Regions from separate parts of the Homo sapiens genome. Here regions 1, 2, 3 and 5 are each linked to region 4. Evidence: fine-mapped expression QTL. A gene starts in region 4. Each other region holds a variant in brackets. All regions are shown on one strand. Distances are between the middles of the regions.

What was found. PIP is the estimated chance that this variant, and not a neighbour inherited with it, causes the effect.
Region 1: its variant is fine-mapped to the expression of HEMK1 in monocytes (TOPMed, PIP 0.94).
Region 2: its variant is fine-mapped to the expression of HEMK1 in blood mononuclear cells (TOPMed, PIP above 0.99).
Region 3: its variant is fine-mapped to the expression of HEMK1 in prefrontal cortex (BrainSeq, PIP 0.95).
Region 5: its variant is fine-mapped to the expression of HEMK1 in whole blood (TOPMed, PIP above 0.99).

The regions. Positions count from the first base shown.
Region 1 is chr3:51,132,624-51,137,724 of GRCh38, reverse strand. The region is part of intron 9 of DOCK3 (dedicator of cytokinesis 3); the gene reads right to left. Among named protein-coding and RNA genes, the nearest start is that of MANF, 250 kb to the left of the region's middle. The variant G/C (reference allele first, on the strand shown) is at 2,635.
Region 2 is chr3:50,587,745-50,592,845 of GRCh38, reverse strand. It overlaps HEMK1 (HemK methyltransferase 1, mitochondrial release factors N(5)-glutamine), which reads right to left. Exons shown (of 11, transcript NM_016173.5): 11 at 1-5,101. Among named protein-coding and RNA genes, the nearest start is that of HEMK1, 21 kb to the right of the region's middle. RefSeq lists enhancers at 1,909-2,018, 2,039-2,128, 2,199-2,258, 2,269-2,388. The variant TG/G (reference allele first, on the strand shown) is at 2,661.
Region 3 is chr3:51,503,760-51,508,860 of GRCh38, reverse strand. It overlaps LOC105377085 (a long non-coding RNA gene), which reads right to left and starts at 1,791. Exons shown (of 3, transcript XR_940835.3): 1 at 1,503-1,791. It also overlaps a transcript of DCAF1 not described here. The variant G/AG (reference allele first, on the strand shown) is at 2,736.
Region 4 is chr3:50,566,783-50,571,883 of GRCh38, reverse strand. HEMK1 (HemK methyltransferase 1, mitochondrial release factors N(5)-glutamine) reads right to left here and starts at 2,362. Exons shown (of 11, transcript NM_016173.5): 1 at 2,310-2,362; 2 at 552-953; 3 at 83-174. The coding sequence starts at 779. It overlaps C3orf18 (chromosome 3 open reading frame 18), which reads left to right and starts at 4,137. Exons shown (of 6, transcript NM_016210.5): 1 at 4,137-4,421. RefSeq lists an enhancer at 2,438-2,557 and a silencer at 3,996-4,505.
Region 5 is chr3:50,511,464-50,516,564 of GRCh38, reverse strand. No RefSeq gene overlaps it. Among named protein-coding and RNA genes, the nearest start is that of CACNA2D2, 10 kb to the right of the region's middle. RefSeq lists enhancers at 307-945, 3,790-4,735. The variant A/T (reference allele first, on the strand shown) is at 1,967.

The DNA of each region.
Region 1 (5,101 bases), 570 kb before region 4:
ATATGAAGTTACATTAATTTCATATTATTGATCAAGTTCTTACAAATGAATCCCATAATTTCAATCTGTGACAAGTCTAATGGTGTCTTAATTTTAAGATAACTACCTTTTTTGAGATTTGTAATTCTTGGATGGCACTGCGTTTTGTACATGCCTTCACTGATGGCAATTCATGCATCCCTTCAACAAATGTTTGGTGACTGCCAATGAGGTATCAGCCCATGCCCGGCACTAAGGCAGAGACGAGTTTCTTATCCTCAACGAGGGTACATCCTAAAGACTCTGTTTTGGAAACGGAAGCAGTTTTCTCAAATAAATTTAGAGGAATTCTCCCAACTTTTTCAATTTAATCTTTATGTTCCTCATTCGGTCCTCCATGAATATGGATGCCAACTGCTTAGCATCTCTCTCATGATAACCTGCCAGGTGCTTGAAAATAAGCAAGTAGCCCCAAGGTTATACTACACTGTATGACCCAACAGAGTAGGAAATATCTAATATCCCCTCATAGATTCATTTTCCAATTTAGATCACTTGGCTTTATTTCTCAAATTCTTTAAGTTTTCCCACTTTATTTTAAAGCACAGAAAGCAGAAATACACACAAAAAAGGGGTTTTATAAAGGCAAACGATGGTCCAGGGCTATGGTTTCCAAATTTATTTTTTTAAGCTGTTTTTTTTTTAATTAATTTATTATTATTATACTTTAAGTTTTAGGGTACATGTGCACAATGTGCAGGTTAGTTACATATGTATACATAGTGTCAGCTTTTCTCTTCTTTTCAACAGAACCTTACTCTGTTCACCAACATATAAAAAATTAAGAAGCAGATTTTCTTGGGTTGAATCAGAGGTGAGGGTTTCAGGAGAGGGGGATAATGCAGGAATCCTCCATAGTTAGGCCTCCACTCTGACCACCAGTTCTCCTTGAGACACTTCAGGACTCCAAGTAACATTTTTGTAACTACTGGTATAATGCAAGGGTTCTTTCTAGCCTTCCTCTTTCCCTTTTATTTTTTCAACAAACATTCACTAACTTCTATCATTTTGCAGAAACCGAGCTAAATGCTGAGGCTATAGAAATGAAATAATTCCTGTCCTCAAGTCTGGTGGAACAGAGACACACATAAACCACAAATTGCACCACGATGTGAAAATGCTATAATTGCATAGAAAGGGGCTGACAAGGCCAGGCACGGTGGCTCATGCCTGTAATTCCAGCACTTTGGGAGGCCGAGACGGGTGGATCACAAGGTCAGGAGATCAAGACCATACTAGCTAACAAGGTGAAACCCCGTCTCTACTAAAAATACAAAAAATACAAAAAAAAATTAGCCGGGTGTGGTGGTGGGTGCCTATAGTCCCAACTACTCAGGAGGCTGAGGCAGGAGAATGGCGTGACCTGGGAGGCAGAGCCTGCAGTGAGCCGAGATCGTGCCACTGCACTCCAGCCTGGGTGACGAGCGAGACTCCATCTAAAAAAAAAAAAAGGTGGCGGGGGGCACCGACAAACTACTGGATTGAGGGTAGGCTGCCTGAAGGAGGTACTGGAACAGGTTCTTGAAAGACTGCAAGGCTTTTGCCACTTGGTAAGGGGTAATTAGAGATGAAGAAAAAGGTATTCCAGGAGGAGAGAGTGCAAAGTGCAGACTTTCTAAAGGATGATGTAGCTTATTGTATGGGGAAGCTCAGAGCATGAGTTAAGAGGGTACTAGAGGCTGCATGCAATGGCTCCACCTGTAATCCTAGCACTTTGGGAGACCAAGGCAGGAGGATCACTTGAGCCCAGGAGTTCAAGAACAGCTTTGGAAATATGGCGAGATCCTGTCTCTACAAAAACTTAAATATTAGCTGGACATGATGGTATACATTTACAGCCCTGGCGACTCAGGAGGCTGAAGTGGGATGATTGTTTTGAGCCTGCTGACGTCAAGGCTGCATGCAGCCTTGCACTCCCAGCCTAGGCAACAGAGTGAGACCCTGTCTCCAAAAAAATAAAAATAAAAATAAAATAAAAAAAAGAGTACTGGATAGCTGGCCAGAGGTGCCATGCAACACAGTGTGGATTATTTACGTGTGAAGAATTTCCAAATTTGACTACCATTAGTAGTACCTGGCAGCTTACTTAAAATGGAAATATCCTGGGCCAAACCCAAGATCATCTGGATCAGAATCTCTAGAGGAAAGGATTCCCGGAGACAGTCCAGGAATCTATAATTTTAAGGACTTCAACTGGTATTAGGGCTAGCAAGTTTGAAAAACCCTATTGTGGGCCTTAGAGAGGCTCTGAAAGTTCAAACTTGAGAAGCAGCATGATCCCCTAAGTGTTTAGACTGAGCATCTGGGCTGCAATGCAGAAGCCAGGTTGGTAACATAGAAAGAACTCCAGAGAGACAACAGTAGCAGCCCAGGCAAACTATGACACAGTCTTAAAACTGAGGAGAGGTGAATGGATGTGAGATATATTTAGGAGACACAGCTGACCAGATTTAGCAGTTGACTGGATGTGGTTATATCAACCAGAGAAGATATAAAAGAAGATTATATAAATTTTGGGTATACATACTGAATTCGAGGTCTCTGTGGAACACATACGTGAACAGAAAACAGGCAGCTAAAAACCCATGTCTGAAA[G/C]TCAGAGAAAATATGTGAGAGGGAGATACAGCTCTGGTATTGATTATTTTGCTGTAGTAGCTGCAACAGCAGCCACTGAGTGAGTGTTTTTTTGCGCACCAGGCATTGTTTTAAGTATTTCTTTTCTTGCCTAATTGCTCTTGATCTTTACAACAGGTATTTTACCTCTGAAGAAACTGAGAGTTGGAGAGGCAAAGTTCCTGGCTTGAGATGAAAAAGTAGAGAGTAGTAAAGTTGAAATTCAAATCTGGAAAGGTTTGAACTCAAAGCCCATGCTTTATCTGTTATTTCCTCTCATGAAATAAGTACTGAAAAAAAGTTTTGGGGTGTGGAAAATTCGGTTCCATGGGAAAATATACCTGGGAAATGCTGCAAGCCACATCTTGCTTCAGAGATGAAGAGTGTCTGTGTGGCATAGGCTCCTAGAGGTGCTGCATGAAAGAAATCTATCTCCAGGATTCCTATTACCTACATGTACTCTGACTCTTCCAACTAGAAAGTCTATGCCATGTACCCATTCCAGCTCTTCTGGAGGCACACAGTTTGTTTGAGGTTCATGACATTCCCACCAAAGAGACATAGGTAATGATTTGCTTGATTAAGAACAAGCAGAAACTTGAATGGCAAATAATCCCAGAAAATTGGCTTTTTCCATTTTGTCTAAGATAAAACAGACACATGAGTAAATCTGCTGTTACATATTCTCAAGTAATTATAAAAACATTTTTGTAATTATACAGCCCCTATCAGGTCTTCAGAAAACAGAACTACCATTTCACCCAGCAATCCATTGCTGGGTGTATACCCAAAGGAATATAAATCATTCTACCATAAAGACACATGCAGGCATATGTTCATTGCAGCACTATTCACAATAGCAAAGACAGGGAATCAACCTAAATGCCCATCAATGGTAGACTGGATAAAGAAAATGTGGTATATACACACCATGGACTACTATGCAGCCATAAAAAAGAACAAGATCCTGTCCTTTGCAGGAACATGGATGGAGCTGGAAGCCATCATTCTTAGCAAACTAACGCAGAAACAGAAAACCAAACACTACATGTTCTCACTTGTAAGTGGGAACTAAATGATGAGAACACCTGAACACAAAGAGGAGAACAACAGACACTGGGGCCCACTGAGGGTGAGGGTGGGAGGAGGGAGATGAGTAGAAAAAATAACTATTAGGTACTAGGCTTAGTACCTGGGTGATGAAAGAACATTCTATCATCTCTGAAGTTCCTTCTCAATCCTGCACCCTTCCCTCTTAGTGGGCCCAAATCAATAAATTCAGCCTGACCCAACTCTATGTTCCTTCCACCATTATCCCACACCCTTAATATCCATTCCCATGCCTGTTCTCTAGATTTCTGTTTGTATAAATTAGACACAGCAATCCCATTACTGGGTATATACCCAAAGGATTATAAATCATGCTACTATAAAGACACATGCACATGTATGTTTATTGTGGCACTATTCACAATAGCAAAGACTTGGAACCAACCCAAATGTCCATCAATGATAGACTGGATTAAGAAAATGTGGCACATATACACCATGGAACACTATGCAGCCATAAAAAAGGATGAGTTCATGTCCTTTGTAGGGACGTGGATGAAGCTGGAAACGATCATTCTGAGCAAACTATCGCAAGGAAAGAAAACCAAACACTGCATGTTCTCGCTCATAGGTGGGAATTGAGCAATGAAAACACTTGGACACAGGGTGGGGAACATCACACAATGGGGCCTGTCATGGGGTGGGGGGAGGGGGGAGGGATAGCATTAGGAGGAATACCTAATGTAAATGATGAGCTGATGGGTGCAGCACACCAACATGGCACATGTAACATATGTAACAAACCTGCACGTTGTGCACATGTACCCTAGAACTTAAAGTATAATAATAATAAAGAAAACTCAAGCAGTTCTTTTCGAGTGTAGTGCACCTTCTCATGGGTCACACTCTCAGCCTCACCTCTAGGGACCTGCCAGGACCTTAGTCTAGTTACAGCTCTATAAGTAAACAAGGGTGTTGGGGGTGGGTCCTGAGGAAAATCAACATTATCCTGCCTGGCAACTGCCTCAGGGGAGGCCATCAGTGTTGTCTCAGGCAGCACAGCATGTATCTCCTCAGACAAAGGTGGAAAGGCTGATGGCAGCTTGGGTCGGGGAGGGGATGCTGACATGACTGGGGATGGGGACGGTGTTCTTTCTGGCAAAAGAGGTTCATCAGAGTTCACAAACTCAGTGTCCCCAGCTTCATCAGGGTCCTCCCCCATGTCCCTATTCCAAGTTGCAGGGTCTCATTATTTTCCAATAAATGCCCTCACTTTAACAGTAGACACCTGGCAAGGCTGTGCATGCATATTTCATTGCGGAACAGCCACTTGCATGATAAGAACTTGTGTCTGTTTTTCCACAATTCCAGCTCTTTCTCTACAGGAACATAATGAAGC
Region 2 (5,101 bases), 21 kb before region 4:
GCTCCAGGTCTCCTCCCACAGCCACAGCCAGCAGCCTCCTCTGCCCTTGGAGGGCGCACAGGACCTTGTTGGGCCTTCGGAGGAGAAGTAGGGTTGGGGGCAGGTGGTGACTCTGGCAGAGGCTCTGTTTCCTCTTCCAGCTCCAGGGCCCACCCCACTGTGACTGGCAGAGTCTGAAGGGCTGGGCTGGCCTGGGTGTGGCCCCAGCTACGAAGATCCTCCATCCAGAGTCTCAGGCTCTAGGGGTCAATTTTTGGCTTTTGTAGGGAAGTAAACAGGAGGTGGGAATGAGGGGACAGATGCTGGAGGGAGGCTGGCAACAGGGGAAAGTTCCAGAGGGTCAGAGAAAGTAGAAGCATTTGAGTAAAATTTGGAAGGCTGAATTTTATTCAAGGAATCAGGGAGGGAGGGTGGCAGGGAGAATGAGTTCCAGGTGCCCAGTACAGCTAAGCAAAGCACCGGTATTGGAAATCCTGGGGTTGGTTAGTGAAAGCTGGGAGGAGCCTGTGGTTAGTTCCCAGGCGGGTTTGCTGGGAGAATCACCAGCCTCCATTTCCCAGAGGTCAACGGAGTGTGGTTCTCAGGGGGTGCCAAGCTCCAAGCATGAAGCCAAAAAGGTCAGGGATGTGGATAAGGTCTGGTTCATTTCCCTCCCAGACCTGCCTCACCTTGCTGTGTGACACTGGGCAAGTCATGGGCCCTCTCTGAGCTTTGGCTCTCTTTTCTTTCTTTTTTTTTTTTTTCTGATGCGGAGTCTCACTCTGTCGTCCAGGCTGGAGTGCAGTGGTGCAATCTCCGCTCACGGCAAGCTCCGCCTCCCGGGTTCAGGCCATTCTCCTGCCTCAGCCTCCTGAGTAGCTGGGATTATAGGCACCCGCCACTACGCCCAGCTAATTTTTTTGTATTTTTAGTAGAGACAGGGTTTCACCGTGTTAGTCAGGATGGTCTCGATCTCCTGACCTCGTGATCCACCCGACTCAGCCTCCCAAAGTGCTAGGATTACAGGAGTGAGCCACCACGCCCAGCCCCATCTTTGGCCCTCTTTTCTATGACATGGGGCAGTGTTTGAGCTTACATGGGCTCTGCGCTCCCATGACTTGGAGGCAGTGGTTGGGCCTCTGAGGCAGAGTAACACCACACACACACAAACACACACACACACACACACACACACACACACACGTGCATGCATGCAACCCTGGCTTGGTTTCCAGAGCCTGGAGCTCCCCCATCCAAGGGAGGCCCTGCGTGGACACCTATGATTATGGACATGGACCCAGTTGGCCAGGTGCAGTGGCTCACGGGACCCGGTGCTCAAGGCCCACGCCCATGAACATACACGTACGTGTGGGTGCCTGTGCAAGGGTGTGTGAGTCTCTATGCTGTGTACATGTGATGTTGCTTGGCTTCCCCAGAGCCTAATGCCTCCCACGGCTCCCCACTGCTGACCAGAAAAATCGTAAGGACCCAGCTACTCATGAGGGGCCTGTCAGGAGGAGTCTATGTGCAAGTCCATGAGTTCTGCAAGGCCAGGGCCCCACCTGAACCATCCAACCTCCTGGGCCTGGCTTACAGTTGGTGCCTAATAAATGACTGTGCAGGAATGATGGGCCTGCAGGTAAGACAGGTGAGACAGGCCAGATGACAGCCTCAGTTACCCCTTCCCCAACTTTGGGAAGGTGGTCTCAGCCCTCAGCAATCCTAGGACCCCTCACGGAGGCTGTTGGCAGGAAAGGACTCGTCCCAGATGCTGTGTCCTCGCCTGACCTTGTATTCTGCCCCACCTAGTGGCCCTAAGGGAGGCTGAGGTACTGAGCTCTTGGCTGTGACTAAGCGGAAGGAAGACAGAAAGGAGGGGTGATACTGGGGCCCTAGGGTTTTGCTTCTCATTTCTCTCTTTCCAAAGCACAGTTAGTTCCCAGAAATGAAGGTACCCAGAAACAGTGAAACTCTGGGCTTTCAGGGGCACAGGGTCCCCCAGTCTTTCCACCCTTGGAGGCACCACCAAGGGCCTGGGTAAGTCCCTAGCCCATGTCTACTCATGGAGTACTTGGGGCAACCACACTGGAGCCTGGTGGGGCTCCCAAGGACCTTTCAGGAGCATGTGGCCCAGATTGATTTGCTGTGACAGATGCTGGGTGGGAGGTGCCGGGAGCCTCAGGCTATGGGGGCTGGAGCAGTTGGGGCAGACCTCCGGGAAGGGAATGGTCACGTGGGGCATCAAGTGCCCCAGATGCCCCACCCCACAGGAGTTCCTTTCGTCCATCCTTTCACTCTTCCTCTTTTTTTTTTTTGAAACAGTCTTGCTGTCGCCCACGCTAGAGGGTAGTGAGGTGATCTCAGCTCACTGCAACCTCCGCCTTCCGGGTTCAAGCGATTCTCCTGCCTCAGCCTCCCGAGTAGCTGGAATTACAGGCATGAGCCACCATGCCCAGCTAATTTTTGTATTTTTAGTAGAGACAGGGTTTCACCATGTTGGCCAGGCTGGTCTTGAACTCCTGAGCTCGGGTGATCTGCCTGCTTCAGCCTCCCAAAGTGCTGGGATTACAAGTGTGAGCCACCCTGCACGGCCCCTTTCTTTCTGGCTTCCTCCTCCCTTCTTCCTTTTCTTTCATTTTTAAAACATTTTTTTAAAATTATTATTTTTAAATTTTTTTTTT[TG/G]AGATGGAGTCTAGCTCTGTCGCCCAGGCTGGAGTGCAGTGGCATGATCTTGGCTCACTGCAATCTCTGCCTCCCGGGTTCAAGCAATTCTCCTGCTTCAGCCTCCCGAGTAGCTGGGATTACAGGTGTCCACCACCACACCCAGCTAATTTTTGTATTTTTAGTAGACGGGGTTTCACTGTGTTGGCCAGGCTGGTCTTGAACTCCTAACCTTGTGATCCTTGGCCTCCCAAAGTGCTGGGATTACAAACGTGAGCTACTGCGCCTGGCCTATTATTATTATTTTTGAGACAGAGTTTTGCTCTTGTTGCCTGGGTGGGAGTACAATGGCGTGATCTTGGCTCACTGCAACATCTGCCTCTCGGTTTCAAGCGATTCTCCTGCCTCAGCCTCTCAAGTAGCTGGGATTACAGGCGTGAGCCACCACACCCGGCTAATTTTTGTATTTTTAGTACAGACGGATTTTCACCATGTTGGCCAAGCTGGCCTCGAACTCCTGACCTCAGGTGATCTGCCTGCCTCAGCCTCCCAGAGTGCTGGGATTACAGGCGTGAGCCACCGCGCCCGGCCTAAAATTATTTTTTTAGAGACAGGGTCTGACTCTGATGTCCAGGCTGGAGTGCAGTGGCGCTATTATAGCTCACTGCTGTCTTAAACTCTTGTGCTCAAGTAATCCTCCTGCCTCAGCCTCCCGAGTAGGTGGGACCACAGGCATGTGCCACCATGCCCAGCTCATATTTTTAATTATTGAAAAAAAAAAAACCCAATTTTAAAAACCACACACAGACTCAAATGGGCACAGCACCAAATTATGACACATTAGAATCCTTCCTATGTGCTCAGAGAACAGGGTTTGTGCTGAGCTTGAGATAAGGCTTCTCTTGCTGTCCCTGTCAATCAAAGAGACTGCAAGGTGGGCTTCAGACACAGTGCTAGCATTTGTAAACAATTATCTGTGAGAATCAGCGGTCACTTTGTCCTGTGCTACCAAAATCAAACACTGAAAGAAAATGGACATTGAGACCAACATAAGACTACAACTACCATCCCAGCCCCCAGTTCAAACATTTGTGTTCATTGCTCTTCGCCCTGATGGACTGTATGCTAAGAAAGAATTTGCACTTGCAAAATACATTTTTGCTAACTAGATGCTCATTTTATCTTTTTAAAAATATGTATTTCAGTTGCACATGAAATGTACTTTGAAAGAATGAGCTCCAAAGTTCTGGGGGGCTGAGACAGGCGGGCTGAGTGAAATGATGAAGAAACAGTGGCTTTCAGTGCGGGCCAAGAGAGTAGTGAGCAATGGTCAGTTATTGAGCTGTGGAGTGCCTTCAACAAGGGTTTTTAGACACATCCATCTGGTGCCTCATCCCAGAACCTCACAGGCCTAGGGACCTGAAATGCTCCCCATGACAAGGCAAACTTCATATCCTCACATGCTGAGACAGACTCAACTTTCAGTCTGGAACTGGGCTGGGTGTCTGTCAGTCCACGCCACCCATATCCGGAGTACATCAGAGTCTGGGTTCAGTGGCAGCCACTTTCGCTGCCCTCTCCTGCCCCACACCTAGCGCTCTGCCTGGCCCCTTTGCTGTGGGCGTGAAAATCTGGCACCCGGGCCGACAGGGAGAGAGCTCAGTCTGCGTCTGCTGCTTTCTGTTTGATTCATCACTTTCCCCTTCACCCTGGAGCCCACGTTGGCTGTGGGGCACCTAACTGGCTCCTGAGGCCCCTCTGGGGGGTTGAGGCCCTGGGCTGCATTTGGCCTCGGCAGCCTGCTCACGCCTCTCCTGACTGGGATGTCAGAGGACTAGGTTCAAACTCCAGCATGGCCAGCTGCTGGCTGTGTGACCTTGGGCATGTTAAGCCTCAGTCCCTTCATCCATACAGTGGGCCAAGGAAGGGATCCCTGATGTGCCAACAGATGGATTTATGACCACGTGTGTGCAGCACCTGGCACTAGTTTACACACTGCAGATGCCCGGTACTGTTGTCGCCAGCACTCAGGTCTAGGAGAGTGGTCTTCACAACTCTACCTCAAGGGTTGCCTTTGGACTGTGTCCCCACATGGTCACATTTGCATCTCCAGACGCCCCAATGCTGCTTCTCGGATATTCTGAAGGCATCCTACACTGTCAAGCTCCCCGACTGTTCCCCCCAGCACCCCAGTCTCCAACTCAGGGTGGCCCCATTTCCCCCAGGTCCCAATCAGATCCCTGGGCCCACTGTGGTCCTGGCCATCTCACATCCAAACCCTCAGCAATGGTTGTGAGTCAGTTCTGTTCCAGAATATCTGATGCCACTGCTACAGACCCCAGCCACCTCCAGACCCTGGACAAGTTGCAGCCTCCTGCCCCAGCCCCTTTTTCCTGGCAGCCAGAAAGAGCAGCCTCAATGCTTCTCTAACCCTGTAACTCAGCTCAAAAAGCTCTTTAGG
Region 3 (5,101 bases), 940 kb before region 4:
AATTCCAGAGACTACAGGGATCTCGGAAGAGAGTTAGGCAAAGATGAATGTTACCTGGAGAAAGCCTCCTGTCTCCTGCCTATTGGATTCAGGTACAGAGAGGTGACTGTTGTACTCCTGACTTAGAACCCATGTGGGCTTTGAGCCCCTAAGGCCTAGATGCTGATTTCAGAGCCTGCAAGAGAGGAACAAAGGTAGGAGCAGAGGGCCAGGTGAGAGGTGGGCTGGGGACACGCTGGTGGCTGGAAATAAGCTGAACTGGAACCAGGAATGAGTAGTTGCAGCGGAAATATTCAGAGCAGAACTCTTGAGGTGGCCACTACATGTGGCATTCTTTGTCCTGTTCCCATCTTTCATAATCTGGACTTTGCAGTCACAGATTCACAGCACCTGAAAGGGTCTGGAAGCCATGTGGTACATGGTTTTTTTTTTTTGAGACGGAGTCTCACACTGTCGCCCAGGCTGGAGTACAGTGGCTCGACCTCTGCTCACTGAAACCTCCGCCTCCCAGGTTCAAGCAATTATCCTGCCTCAGCCTCCGGAGTAGCTGGAATTACAGGCACCCGCCAGCACACCCGGCTAATTTTTTTTGTATTTTTAGTAGAGAGATTTCACCGTATTGCCCAGGCTGGTCTTGAACTCCTGACCTTGTGATTTGCCCGCCTCGGACTCCCAAAATGCTGGGATTACAGGCATGAGCCATCGTGCTCAGCCGGCTGGTGCATGGTTTTTAAACTGCATTCCTTGTAACACTAGGAGTTTTTCTGCCACATCATGACCTAGAATCCCTTGCATCATTCCTTTTCTCTACTTAATGAAGAGGTATACAAGATTTCAGTGGGACTAAAAAGACTCTGTGGTAAAATCATAATACTAATATAATTTGAAAATCATGGATCTAGGCCAGGCACAGTGGCTCACGCCTGTAATCCCAGCACTTTGGGAGGCCGAGGTGGGTGGATCACGAGGTCGAGTTAAAGACCAGCCTGGCCAACATGGCAAAACCCCATCTCTACTAAAAATACAAAAATTAGCTGGGCATGGTGGCGTGTGCCCAGCTACTCGGGAGGCTGAGGCAGGAGAATCACTTGAACCGGGGAGGTGGAGGTTGCCGTGAGCCAAGATCGCACCACTGCACTCCAGCCTGGGCAACAGAGCAAGACTCTGTCTCAAAAAAAAAAAAAAAAAAAAAAGAAAGAAAGAAAGAAAGAAAATCATAGATCTAGTAAAGCCCTCCTTATGGGGGATGTATGAGGAAACTTGCCCAGGGTCACCTCTAGTCTCTTGTACCTCACACCAGACCTGTCCCACAGGATGCCTGCTGGCTCCATAGAGCAGACAGCAGAAACCCTCAGTGGAGGCATGGCTTGAATACAAAATAGCCAAGATGTCTCCTTGGTCTGGAGGAGACACATGGTGGTGAGCAACTCTCAACAGAATTAATGACACCAAGACCCAGACCTGCAGACCCTGAGAGGCAGTGAGATGCTGTCTTAGCTTACCTGCCAAAAGTCCACAGGATTTGGTCTGTTCTTGCCTTCATGAAATGTAATGCCCTGGACAGGGATACAAGGCTCTTGGGTTCCAGGCTGCCCCTGACTTCTGGGAATAGCAGCCTTCATTTTAAGGGAGGGAGCTGGGCATAGTCATTCAGGCCTTAGACTGTAAGCCTTGAGGGCAGGGTCTGTGCTGCATTCTCCGCAGCACTGAAGACACAGGGTACAGGGCCAGGCACAGGGCAAGGGCTCGGGAATCCTAACTTAAGACACATTTTTGTTCATTTGATTTTCTTTTTTTTCTTTTTTTCTTTTTTTTTTTGAGGGAGTCTCTCTCTGTCGCCCAGGCTGGAGTGCAGTGGCATGATCTTGGCTCACTGCAACCTCTGCCTCTGGGGTTCAAGCGATTCTCCTGCCTCAGCCTCCCGAGTAGCTGGGATTACAGGAGTGCCCAGCTGATTTTTTCTATTTTTAGTAGAGACGGGGTTTCACCATGTTGGCCAGGCTGGTCTTGAAATCCTGACCTCAGGTGATCTGCCCACGTCGGCCCCCCAAAGTGCTGGGATTATAGGCGTGAGCCACCCATGCCTTGCAACTTGTTTTTAAAACAAGGTTTCCATTCAGTGGCTGCCCCCATGCCCCGCTTACGAAGTGTGACCTTCCAAGGCAGTAACTGAGTTTCCACATTTTGTGGAATGACACTTTCTCCCCGGGTTGTTTTCTGTTTTCTCCCCTGAATTGCCTCTTCAGGAGGTGGGAGTCTCTACCCTCTGGAGAGAGTGGGCACTGAGCGCTCCACTTTCTTCTCTTGACACTCTTCTTCCTCTGCGTAATCCAACAGGTAGGGGTGCCCCAAGGCTACCAGGGCCACTTTTCAATGTAGCAGAATTTGGCAGAATGTGCTTGCCCAGGAAACAGGTAGAAAATGGATGGTCAGGCCAGGTGCAGTGGCTTATGCCTGTAATCCCAGCACTTTGGGAGGCCAAGGCAGGTGGATCGTTTGAGGTCAGGAGTTCGACACCAGCCTGGCCAACATGGTGAAACCCCGTCTCTACTAAAAATACAACAATTAGCCAGGTGTGGTGGCGGACACCCGTAATCCCAGCTACTCAGGAGGCTGAGGCATGAAAATCGCTTGAACCCGGGAGGTGCAGGTCTCAGTGAGCCAAGATCACACCACTGCACTCCAGCCTGGGCGACAAGAGTGAAACTCCATCTCAAAAAAAAAAAAAAAAAAAA[G/AG]AAAGAAAAGAAAAAGAAAAAAGAAAAGAAACTGAATGGTCACAGAGGGATGGCACTGAGGAGAAGATCTGGTCCCTGGCTCAGGGGCCTTAACCTCCTTTTTCCAGGGATGACCCAGAACATCAGTGATCAGGACCCTTATATATATTCAAAAGGGGCAAGGGTGCTCCTCTGGCCCTAGGGTCTCAACGGATGGGATAATGGTCAAGGAATACAGGCTCAGGCCCCAACTGTTCTTATCTTTTGGCGATGACTGAGACATGAGAAACTGATCCCATCCTGAGTCTCCAATAACCCTCCTCACCCACTACAGCCTGAGACTGGTCCAGTGAGCCCCTCCAGACCCCACACCCCTCTCCAGAGCCTACAGGCTGCTTGTGAAGTCCCTTCTCCCCTAAAGTCATGCCCACTAGTCCCTGGTTGTCCTGGTCCCTGGTCCTGTGGGGAGGCAACCAGCTTTGTGACTTCACAAAAGGCTATCTTGTCAGAAGCCTGGACCTGCTGAAGCAGGAGCAGGGCAGAGGGGGCTCCCCTCAGGAACATCATGAGACTTTTCACACAGAGACATCGCCACCTCTAAGGGATGAAGAACTTCCCCACGGTAAGAGCCCATGACACCCTCTACACCTAGAAACTCCCGTCTTGATGACTTTGGCTCCCAGGCCTAACTGGGTACCCCAGGCTGTATCTGGCAACATCTCCAAGAGGGATACGCCCATGGTAGAAGTATTTACTTCGGTTGGTGTGGTGGGTCTCTGACCTTTGAATTTGTTCCATTCAACAAAGCCATTCTTCTGTAGGCCCTCTCTTTTTTTAATTTAAAAAATTATTATTAATTTTATTTTTATTATTATTATTTTTTGAGACAGAATCTCACTCTGTTGCCTAGGCTGGAGTGCAGTGGTGTGATCTCGGCTCACTGCAACCTACGCCTCCTGGGTTCAAGCAATTCTCATGCCTCAGGCTCCTGAGTAGCTGGGATTACAGGCATGCACCACCACACCTGGCTAATTTTTGTAATTTTTTAGTAGAGATGGGGTTTTGTCATGCTGGCCAGGCTGGTCTCGAACTCTCGACCTCAGGTGATCCACCTGCCTTGCCCCCCTAAAGTGCTGGGATTATGGCGTGAGCTACCACGCCTGGCTGTAAGAATTATTTTTATTTTTATTATTTTTTATACTGATAGAGTCTCACTATGTTGCCCAGGTTGGTCTTGAACTCCTAGGCTCAATGATCCACCTGCCTCAGCCTCCCTAAGTGCTGGAATTACAGGTGTGAGCCACCGTGCCAGGCCCAGGCCTTCTTGAAATGAAATAACTGATAGAGTGGTAAACTCTTTCTGACCTGAGTCATCATGAGGGTCTGCCCCAGCAGTCTCCAGAGTACCTTCAAATGGGTCAGGCCAGAGATCCCTGAATCCTGTAGAATGGTCTATTCCCTGAATCCTGTAGAATGGTCTTTCTAAAAATCCAGGAGTGGCCAAAGCATGGTGGTTCACACCTGTCATCCCAGCACTTTGAGAGGCCAAGGTGGGTGGATCACTTGAGGTCAGGAGTTCGAGACCAGCCTGGCCAACATGGTGAAACCCCATCTCTACTAAAAATACAAAGATTAGCCAGGTGTTGTGGCGGGCACCTGTAATCCCACCTACTCAGGAGGCTGAGGCAGGAGAATTACTTGAACCCAGGATGCAGAGGTTGCAGTGAGACGAGATTGCTTCACTGCACTCCAGCCTGGGGACAGAGTGAGGCTCCATCTCAAAATAAATAAATAAATAAAAGTTCAGGGGTTGCCAGGCGCGGTGGCTCACGCCTGTAATCCCAGCATTTTGGGAGGCAGAGGCGGGCGGATCACGGGGTCAGGAGATCGAGACCATCCTGGTTAACACAGTGAAACCCCGTCTTTACTAAAAATATAAAAAATTAGCCAGGCGTGGTGGCGGGCGCCTGTAGTCCCAGCTACTCAGGATGCTGAGGAAGGAGAATGGCCTGAACCAGGAGGCGGAGCTTGCGGTGAGCTGAGATTGTGCCACTGCACTCCAGCCTGGGCGACAGAGCCAGACTCCATCTCAAAAAAAAAAAAAAAAAAATGTTCAGGGGCTTCTGAGAGCTTGGAGCCAAGGCCAATACAGACTCTCTCCCCAATGTTGACTCCACTCTTCCTCCTGGAAGGATTTCCAACCCCAGGAACCTGAGGCAAAAGAGGCTAGGTATGCTTGCTTTTTTATCTCCTCTTTATCTGTGCCCACTGATCGATGTGGGCACTTAAGTTGTTGACTTTGTGGAATTTGTTTCTTTCTCTGTAAAGTGAGAGTAGTGGATGTGGATGTAATCAGACATAATTACACACCCTTTGGGAAATGATGT
Region 4 (5,101 bases):
CTCCCTGAACTTGGTGGGGATAGGGGAGGCTGGACTGCTGCTCCCTGAACACATCCTTCAGGTCTGATCCATGGGTGCTCACCTCTGCAATCGACGGCTACTCAGCTCCCGGATACACTGTAGTTGCTGAGAGGTCAAGGGCTGGGTCCAAAGTGCCGGCCTCAGGCTCTGAAACTGTCCCCACAGAGAATATAAGTGGCTGGCTCACTGGGCCCAAGGCCCCCAACCCAGGTGTCTTATGTGGATAATGCCTGCCCAGCACTGGTCTGGAGGCCCAACCCTCTCATCATCTGGGCCCAGAGGGGGCAGCATCCTGCCTAAGGTTACACAGCTAACACCAGGCTTCCAGGTGTCTATCCCAGAACACTTAGGCAGAGATATATTCATTCATCCAACAAACTGTTACAGTGTGTGCCAGGCGCTAAGACGTTCCTTCAGAAAAATCCCATCAGTCTCAGCTAAGCACTCTTAGTGAACAGAAAACCTGGATATCCCTTCCCCAAGTCCTCCCTCCTCCCTCTTCCTGTCCTCTTGACAACACTAAACTTAACTGTTTTGGCTCCAAGGACATGAGCCACGATGTACTCACTGGATTCCCGGGCCTCAGGGATACCCCTCTTCTCAAAGACCCCAGTCCAGTGGCTGACCAGTTCTATGGCACTGGATAACCCAGCCAGAGGTGGTTGGGGTTGCCATGAGCTGAAGGCCCAGCCCCGGGTACTTCCCCTCCTCCCTGGGCCAGACAGGAGGGCCCACAGCATTCGGCCCCAAAGCTCCATGTCTCAGGGAAAGGTTCTCCAGAGTGCTTCCAGGTTCCCAAGTCTGCTTTATGATGTCAGCTGCTGAGGTGAGTGCTGAGAGTGGCCCCTGGACCCAGCTGGGTGGAGATGGAGAGGTCACAAGCTCTGGTGCCCCAAAATGGCTCTGGTCCTCAGATATAGTTGGTTGCCACCCTGGGAGTGAGAGGAACCAGGAAAGCAGGTGAGCCTTGTATGACACCCCCCCTTCTACCAATACATTGCCTGAGAATAGTTGTGCTCTTGCTCTGACACCCCCTTGACTCCATTTAGAGCCTTACCCACCTATTTGATCATTCTTGTCTTGGCCACTTACGTTTTCTTCACATTTTTAGCTGGAGTGGGCTGAGCCCATAGCTCAGTCTCTGCTAATAAACGGGTTGGTGGTAGGTTAGGGCACATATGTGGGGACAGGACAGATCTGTGTCTAACCTAGCGTGTGTGATCTTGAGCAAGTCATTATTTCTGATTTTCACTTTCTTAATCCATAAGATGGGGGAAAATCACACCAAACCCATGGCAAGCAATGCATTAGTCTATGAATATCCAAGGCCTGGGAGGCAGCTCAACACACAGCAGGGACCAGATGTTACATGATCTTAACTGATGTTACAAGAGGCAGATGATTGCCTTTAATTGGGAGCTTTGAATCTGACATTGTGTGTGTACTGTCATGGATGTACATGCTGAAAATTTCCTCCTAATTTAACCTATAATCCGGGACATCAGCGTAAACCACCAACTAAAAAATTTACAATTGTATATTTAAAGAGGTCACAAGCAAGTTTAACTGAAGGTTTAAAATCAGCGGTCCCCTTTGCTTCCAGATAAAAGTCCAAACTAGCGTTTATTAAGCACCTGCTAAGTGCCACATCTTCAGATACAAGTAGGGTCAGAGAAGGGAAGCGACTTGCCCAGCGTCACTCAGGTAGAAACTGTCCCAGGCAAGCTGGGCACGGTGGCTCACGCCTGTAATCCCAGCACTCTGGGAGGCCGAGGTGGGCGGATCACGAGGTCAGGAGTTCGAGACCAGCCTGGCCAGCATGGTGAAACCCTGTCTCTACTAAAAATACAAAAAATTGGCCGGGCATACTGACGCGCACCTGTAGTCCCAGCTACTTGGGAGGCTGAGGCAGGAGAACTGCTTGAACCCAGTTCAAGCAGGCGGAAGTTGCAGCGAGCCGCGGTCATGCCACTGCACTCCAGCCTGGGTGCCAGAGAGAGACTCCGTCTCAAAAAAAAGAAAAAAAAGACTGTCCCAGGCAAGACACGAACCCGAGTCCACCAGACTCCAGAAGCGGCTCTTGCACCAGTGCGCCGTCCCAGGAGCCAAGGCCCGAAGTCAGAAGTGTAAACTCCCTCACAGCTACGCACCGCATTGTTAACGACCCAGATGAGGCCCCCTCTCTCCAACCCTGTTTCCCCATCTGCACTATGGAGAATGGTACCGGCCAGGTCTCCAGGCGGTTGCAGTCGAAACACCCCGTTCCGATCCCCACCTCCCATGCATACCTGCCTGAAAGGCTGCCCCACCCACCCACCAGCCGGAGAAGCTGCCCCGAACTGGACGCCCGGACGTGCGTGGCCCGTCGCGCGCTCCCTCGGACGCCCCGCTTCCGGGGTCGGCGCCTTTAAGAAAAGGCTCGGGCGGACGCCGTAGCCCAGCTTCAGTGTTCCTATCGCTGGTGGGTTCCTCCCAGGAGACCCCTGCGGATGGGTGGGGAGGCTGTGAATTCCACTCCCTCTACGCTCGCAGGCCTGCATACAGGAAAGTGCGGGGATGTGTGTGGGGTTGACCCTTGGGGGCCCGGACCTGCCGGTCTTCCTTAAAATCACAGCAGGGATTTGGCTCCAGCCCAAGGGGATTGCTCCGAGCTGGCGTTTAGGAACCAGGCCGGGAGGTGTGTGGGCGGAGCCCAGTAGCCTGCCGGAAAGGGGGCGTGTCACCAGAGGGCCCGGGTGTTCCGGCGGGGACCAGATGTCCGGGGGCGTGGTCTATCTTAGCCTGGGGGCCGGGTGGAGCTGTGCATGGGCGGGTTCCAGTGTTGAAGGCTGGTCCAACTTTGGGGTCCAGTCCCAGTGTCGTGACCCTACCGAGGTCAGTGGCCCGAGCCCACCAGGGGGTCGGCCGACTGGCGGCCAGACCCCAGGGGCCGCTCTTTTACCGATTCGAATCTTGACTCTATTGGCAACTCCTCCAGGTGTTGGGACCTCTGGACCTCAGTTGCGCCTTCTATAAAATACTCGGCAGCGTCTCGCAAAGTGTGTCTTGTCAACATCTCCCCACCAGAAAGTACTGTTAACTAGAACACTGTTAACTACTTTTTTTTTCTTTTTTTCTTTTTTTTTTTTTTTTTTTTTGAGACGGAGTTTTGCTCTTGTTGCGCAGGCTGAAGTACAATGGCGCGATCTCTGCTCACTGCAACCTCGGCCTCCGGGTTCAAGCCATTCTCCTGCCTCAGCCTCCCAAGTAGCTGGGATTACAGGCGTGAGCCAACACGACCGGCTAATTCTGTATTTTTAATAGAGACAGGGTTTCACCATGTTGGTCAGGCTGGTCTCGAACTCCTGACTTCAGGTGATCCATCGCCTCGGCCTCTCAAAGTGCTGGGATTACAGGAGTGAGCCACCACGCCCGGCCTTAAACTGCTATTAAACATGCTGTTTCCCTGCCTCCTTCCCAGACCGGGAGACACAGGGGCGTTTGCATTTGTACCAGGCTACCCGGTGACTCCCATAAACTACTTTGAAAACCGGCGGATCAGGAGTATCTGAGGGCTCCTTCCCTGAGCTGATCATGCCGTGGATGGAAGCTATTGTGAGGGTATATGTAGACTTGCCTGGGTCGGGGTGCCCAATAATAAATCCACCCCACTCTCAACTTCTGTAGACGAAGATTCCCCATCTTCGTCTAGAACCCTCACACCAGAGGACCCGTCTGAGTAGAAAGCCAAGGTTCAGGAAGGGAAAAGCAGTTTCTTCAAGGTCACAAAGTCAGCCAGAGTTCAGTGCAGGCCCAAGGACTCCCAGTCCAGTGCTCTCCCCAAGTCTCCTCTGTACATCCATCCGCGTTTTGGGGGCTTGAGTCTGTCCTGGCACGGGTAGCTGGCAGGGGTCCCGAGTTCTGGCCCGGAAGGGCCTGGCCACCCACTGTCCTCCGCCCAACTTCGGCGCAGGCCACGGGGTGAGGGTAGTCTCTAAAAACTGCGACCAGGTTCTAGGCTCCCTCTGGGGGTGGAGCCAGACCCGAGCGACAAGCGAACGGTCCAATTCTGGGCGGGCTCTAGGCCCGACAGCCAATCGGAGGCCGGGGGCGCGGAGCGTGCAGGGAGGCAAGGCGCTGTAGCTTCGGGGATCCCCCGAGGCTGCTCGGCCCGGCCCCACCTCCGCCGTGGGTCCCGGCCCTACCCACCCTAGCTCAGGCCGGCAGAGCCAGCGCTCGCGGATGCGGCTGGTGCGCAGTAGCGGGCCTGGCCAGCGGCTCGGGGCTTGCAGGGAGGGCGGATCTCGGGTCGGACCCGCAGCCCCAGACGCCGGGCTTGGGGGTTCCCCCCGCCCCGGCCTCCTGCCAGTCACTACCACCCCTAGCCTCTCCAACTGAGCTCGGCGCCGGGAGAGGATTAAGTAAGTGCTGAGGTCACTGCTCCTGTGCAAGAAGGGAGGCATCACAGGGTCGCGGAGGCGGGCATGGGGATTGGGGCAGGGAGGACTGAGAGACCTGGTGGAGAACAGCATGCGGGTTCTCGAAGGTCGCGGTGCCGACCCCTTTTACCCCGGTTTCCTTCCCTTCCCCTTTGGACCCTGAGGCAGGCCTGGAAAGTGGTCAGTAGGGCCTCTTCTCTCCTTTGGGAGGCGATGTTAACAGAGCCCCAGGGCACGAGTTAAGGGTTTGGCCCAAGGTCACGCCCGGGATCAGTTGCAAAGCCAAGAAAAGAACCCGGGACTTCCTATGTGCCCAGATGTGCCCAGCCTAGCTGGAGGGAGAAGGCAAAGAGGGATGAGCCTTTCTACCCCATAACCCTCTGCCAGCCTTGCCCCTTCCTCAGGGACCATCAGAGGTGTTTACACATCTCACACACGCCCATGCATCTGCACAGGGAGGCAACCCCACTAATGCCCATGAACCAGCACAGGGGGATGTATGCACCCACGAGCTAGGTATCCCTCCTCTCCCTAGGCCGTCCCATCTGCAGCTTGGCTGGCACCTCTTCCCACCCCACCTTAACCAGGGCCCTCTGCACTGGGCAAATCTCTCACCCTCTGCTTCCAGGGGAGGAGGGTAAAGGAAGAGAAGGCACCCACAC
Region 5 (5,101 bases), 55 kb after region 4:
GACTCAGAACTCACAATCTGGAGAAATGGATTCACAAGCAGCCCTGCCCTGCCCCCCTGACTGGAGAGCCAGAGAGCCTGCGAAGGCCTGGGCAGCAGACGGGAGTCCTGCTAAAAGTAGGGAACATGTCCAGGCTACAGGGGCAGCAGAGCAGGCTGCAGGCCCTTTAGAGATGACGCTGGGGTCCCCACATGACTTTTTCTGGGACAAGCAGGACCCCAGCAAGGCCATAGTCCAGCCTCAGGGCACGGTGTGAACTGTCCCTCCCCTCCAGTCCGGGCCATGGAGACTCTGTGCTCCACACCCACAACTTACATCCTGCTGCCTGAAGAGGGGCCCCTGGCTGCTGGCCAGAGCACAGTTCTCAGGGACTCTGAAGCCCCTGGGGAGGGGCAAGGGGCCCGGCCCTGATGGGAGGGTGCGGGAGGCGCAGTGCGCAGGGCAGGCGGGGCCCGGCAACAGCTGTTCACTTACTGAAGCTATTTTGTAATATTGCCAGAGCTTTTAAAATAATCCCATTTCGGCAGAATATTCCCAGCTAATTGGAGCTGTCTCTTTCTTATTAAACAGAAAGGTTATAAAAATGTGTGTTGAGGGTTTAAGAGCAATACCTCTCGGCTGCTCTGATTGTTATGACAAGGATAACGTACCGGAAGCCCATGCTTGGCTGGCTGGGCGGAGCAGGCTCTGGTGGCTGGGCAGGGGCAGCGGTGGGGAAAGGGGCGGGCAGAGGAGCAAGGACAGGGGCAGGGACAGGGGCAGCAGCAGGGCCGGGCTGGCTCTCCTCGTGGCCCCCCGCACAGCACACGCTTGAGGAATGGCAGCCTTCCCCAGAACAATTGCTCTCTAAACACTTAGGCTGCTGTGACAGGGCTGTCCATCACCCAGGCCTCTGACTGGGGGAATTCGCATAATTTACTGAGAGGCAGAGGAGAAATGGGGAACTGATTCCAATTAGCTGAGCTGGGAGGCAGATGAGTTCGCCAAGACCTCAGTTCTTAGGGAGGATGAATAAATACCTGCCCCCCTCTCCATGAAGTGGGGCAGCCTGAGAGAGAGGGCTCTCTGCCCCCACAGTTGTTCTGGCAACTGAGGGGCAAGCTGGGCCGGGGTACCAAGAGCTCCCGTTCTGCAGATGAGAACATGAAGCCCACGGCTGTAAAAGGCTTTTCACAAGGTGATCCTAGGAGAGTGGAAACCACAGTCCAGACCGTGTCAGGGGCAGAAGCCTCTGCCCAGCACCTGTACCACCTCCAGTGCAGGGCATGCACCCTGATTCTGTCCTGGGAGCCTCTCAACCCCCTGACCACCCTCCATCACAACAACTCTACTTCAATCTGGCATATATTAGGGATCTGCATCCAATTTAGTTTAAAAATAATTCCTTGTTGCTTTAAAATCAGTTTGAAATGCAGTGTCCTGGAATGGGTAGACCCAGCTTCCATGGATCCCCTCCCTGCCTGGAAGCTGCCCCTGTCTGATCAATTTACCAGACCCTCTCGGGGCCTTTCTAACAGAAGGTAAGATTCCATACTGAGCTCAGCCACCCACCTCTGGGCCCTTTCTGTTTGTCTGTCTTGGAGTCTCTCTCTCTGAGACTCTGCTTCCACCATTGCTCACCGCAGGCCACGCCACTTTCCCTGTGCACCTCAGAAACAGGCAGGGAGGCCTCCACGTGCTGCCCTCCTTGCTGACCTATCACTGAAATGGACCCTGAGCCTGGCCCTAACCTTGGCTTGGGGCTCTGTTCCTAGCTGGCTGAGTGGGGGTGTTTGGCATGTGCCAGACACCGGGGAGTGTGTGTGTGTAGGGGTGGTGGTGGCATTCCTGCCCTGCCTCCCTCTGCAGGTCTGGAGGACACCACGAGTACAGCCTTTCCATAAATGCTTTATGATTCAGCAATGGGTGAAGCCCCCAGTGGCCTCCCAGCAGCTCTGAGAGGAAGATGAGGAGTGGAGTTTACTGA[A/T]CCCATTTTACCTTCAAGAAGACTGAGATGCAGTGACGTTAGCTAACAAGCTCAAGGTTACCTGGGCCCGGTGGATGTCTGCTGCCTCTCTAGCCGTGAATCAGGCCAAGGTGCTGGATGACTGTCCTTTCCACCCTGTGCTCATGGGACATTTCTCCCATGATTTGTGGCCGCAGCTTGGATCTAGCCTGGTCACCCGCCTCCCAGCCTCCTGTCCTGCCTGCTCTGATGGAAAGGGCTCTTTCATCATGGAGAAGCCTCATTCCTCGAAACAGAGCAGACCTTCAATGCTTCACTGGCTTTCCCTGGAGCAGATCCTACCTCAACACCTTTTACTAGTTCTCCAATGTTCCCTTCATCTGGAATGTCCTTCTCTACTCCACCTCCAGAAAGCCTTCCCATATTCTGGCAGCAGAAAGCAGCCCCTGTCCTCATGCACACCAAAGTGCAGATGTTCAACTCTAAGCCTCAAGGAGTCCAATAAGGGGCAGGGGAGGCAGGAAGGGGGCTGGGCATAGGACCCTTGCCTCATTCATGGGGTCTGAGGCTGCTCACCTCACTGGCCGTGTGTCAACAAATCTTCAACTCTCTCCTGCAAAGCCCTCCCCAGAGATACCTTGGTGGGGAGGCAGAGTAGAGAGGCTCAGCTAAAGTGAGAGAGAGGCCGCCGAATTGTTGGATCATTGGTGAAACCCAAAGGCTGCACTGTCACCCTGGGAGCTTTTCTAATAATTTGCATTCCATGTGCATAGTTTTGCATATTGAGATAAAATGGGCTTACTTAAAAAAAAGATTACAATATGCTCCTCATGAATCAACCCAGGAGGAGCTGGATCGGGAGTTGGAGCCCATCTTTGCTGCTTCCCAGCCAGCCTTAAGCAAGCCACTCAGAACTACTGGAGCATCAGTTTCTTCATCTGCCCAATGGGGCAATGGGGCTAATGCTACCTACCTGGAAAGCTGTTTTGAGAATTAGACATCCTTCTGGCCCAGTGCCTGGTAGGAAGTGGGGATGAAGGGGTTGAAGAGGAGGCAGTGGTGATGGGGGTTATTATTCTGGAGGAAACATCAGGAATTCTTACTTGAAAATCACAAGCCCCAGTGACCTGGGGCAAGCCCTTTTCATCTGTACAGTGAACATATAGTCCCCAGGGGAGGTTAGGAACAGGGGCACTCCAGCCTGGGGTCTAGCCCCTCGGGGCCTACTTATGGGTACCGCAGCAAGACTCAGTGAGGTCACAGTGTGGTCCCTGTGGTCCCAAGCCTGTGCCAAGAACAGGCTTAGGGGCTTGAGGGGTGAGCAGAGCCTGGGGTAAGAAGACCCTAGAGCTGTCCAGCTTTCTATGCGACAGCCAGACCAGCCTGAATGGGCAGCAGCTACCCTGGCACGTCCAGGAGAACAGCAGTAGTGCGTGTGCGTTTGTTGGGAGAGGGGACCACTGAGTGCCTGGGGCTTACAGGGAGCTCTGAATCTAATCAGAGAGATGTGGCTGGCAGGGAACAGCAGGGCAGCCTGGGAGGAGGTTACATGGAGTTCTGAAGGCAGGGTTCAACTTTTTTTTGTTTGTTTGTTTGAGACAGAGTTTCACTCTTGTTGCCCAGGCTGGAGTGCAATGGCGCAATCTCGGCTCACCACAACCTCTGCCTCCCGGGTTCAAGCGATTCTCCTGCCTCAGCCTCTTGAGTAGCTGGGATTACAGACATGCACTACCAAGCCCGGCTAATTTTGTATTTTTAGTAGAGACGGGGTTTCTCTGTGTTGGTCAGGCTGGTCTCAAACTCCCGACCTCAGGTGATCCGCCCGCCTCAGCCTCCCAAAGTGCTGGGATTATAGGTGTGAGCCACTGTGCCCAGCCAGCGTTCATCTTATTCCCAGGGATCTGACCTGCAGGACTGGCAGGGGTCACACATGCCAGGCCTGACCCCAGGCCTCAGCGTGATGGAGGTGACATATGATTACATAGTCATTTATTCATTCATCAACACTTGATAATGCCCTACACTCTGAGGGGTGAGCATGCCTGGCATACCCGTTGCCCTGGTGTTTGGGTTCTACCTTCCACTCTTGCCCCACGCCTGACTCACTGCCAGTCTTTCCTGTCCATGGCCTGCTCCCAGCCACCCCACAGCAGCCAGCTTAGATTTTCAGGTAAGACCTTGGTGGCTTGTTGCAAACTGCTGAGTCCACATGGCGATCCTCCCTGAGGTCTCTCTCAGTGAGCCTTCCCCCCGCCTCTGCCTCCCTGAAGCTCCTCCTCACTCATTTGGAAATTAAGACCTCAGCAAGATGGTGCTTTGGAGCTGCCAAGCAGGGCTCAGCAAGGCCATGGCAGGGGGAGGGGAGGGGCTTCCAGCTGGTGGGAACATAAGTAGGTAGGAGCCTCCTCACTCTCTTCTGGACTCTCACTAGCCTGTGCAGGTACAGCCTCCCAAGCACCCCTTCTGGGGCCTGGAGCCCAGCAAAACTCTCTGGGAGGAGAGAGGGTTTAGTTCTGCCTTGGGGGCTCCCAGATCTCTAGGGTCTGTCTAGGCCACCGAGGAGCCCTCTGCTCTCTGCATTTGTCCTGGCACCTGCCTTGCTCTGCCGACCTCAGTATAAGCTCCTTATCAGCAAGTGGAAAACAGACACCCAAGATGGGAACATGGGCCAGCTCTAACCATCAGACAAGGCCATGGATGGCCCCAAGCAAGGACCCAGGGGGACCTGGGACCTGGTCTCTACTGCTTACTGGGTAACTTTGGGCCTACCCCAAACCTCTGAGGCTCAGTTTGCCCAACTATGGAATGCAGTAAGGGGTCCACAGAGATCCTGCTTTCCTTTGAAAGGGATTCTGTGGCTCAGTCATCTCCAGAGTGGCCAGGATGTTTCCTATCTGCCCATACTCAGGGCCCAGGTGGAACGGGACCCAGAATCCCGACAAGCCATAGTCATTTCTGGACTTGTACCCTGGATAGCCTCCCTTTCCCCACCCCACACCTTTGGGGGCAATGATGCCCCTCCCTCAGCTAGCCCACCTGGGGGCAATGGTCCCAGGCCAGCCCCTGTCCTGTCTATCCCCCGCAACTCCCATCCCTGTCCCCATTTCCTGCCATACGACATGGCCTGCATCCTCCCTCCTGAGCAGATGCTCCTTA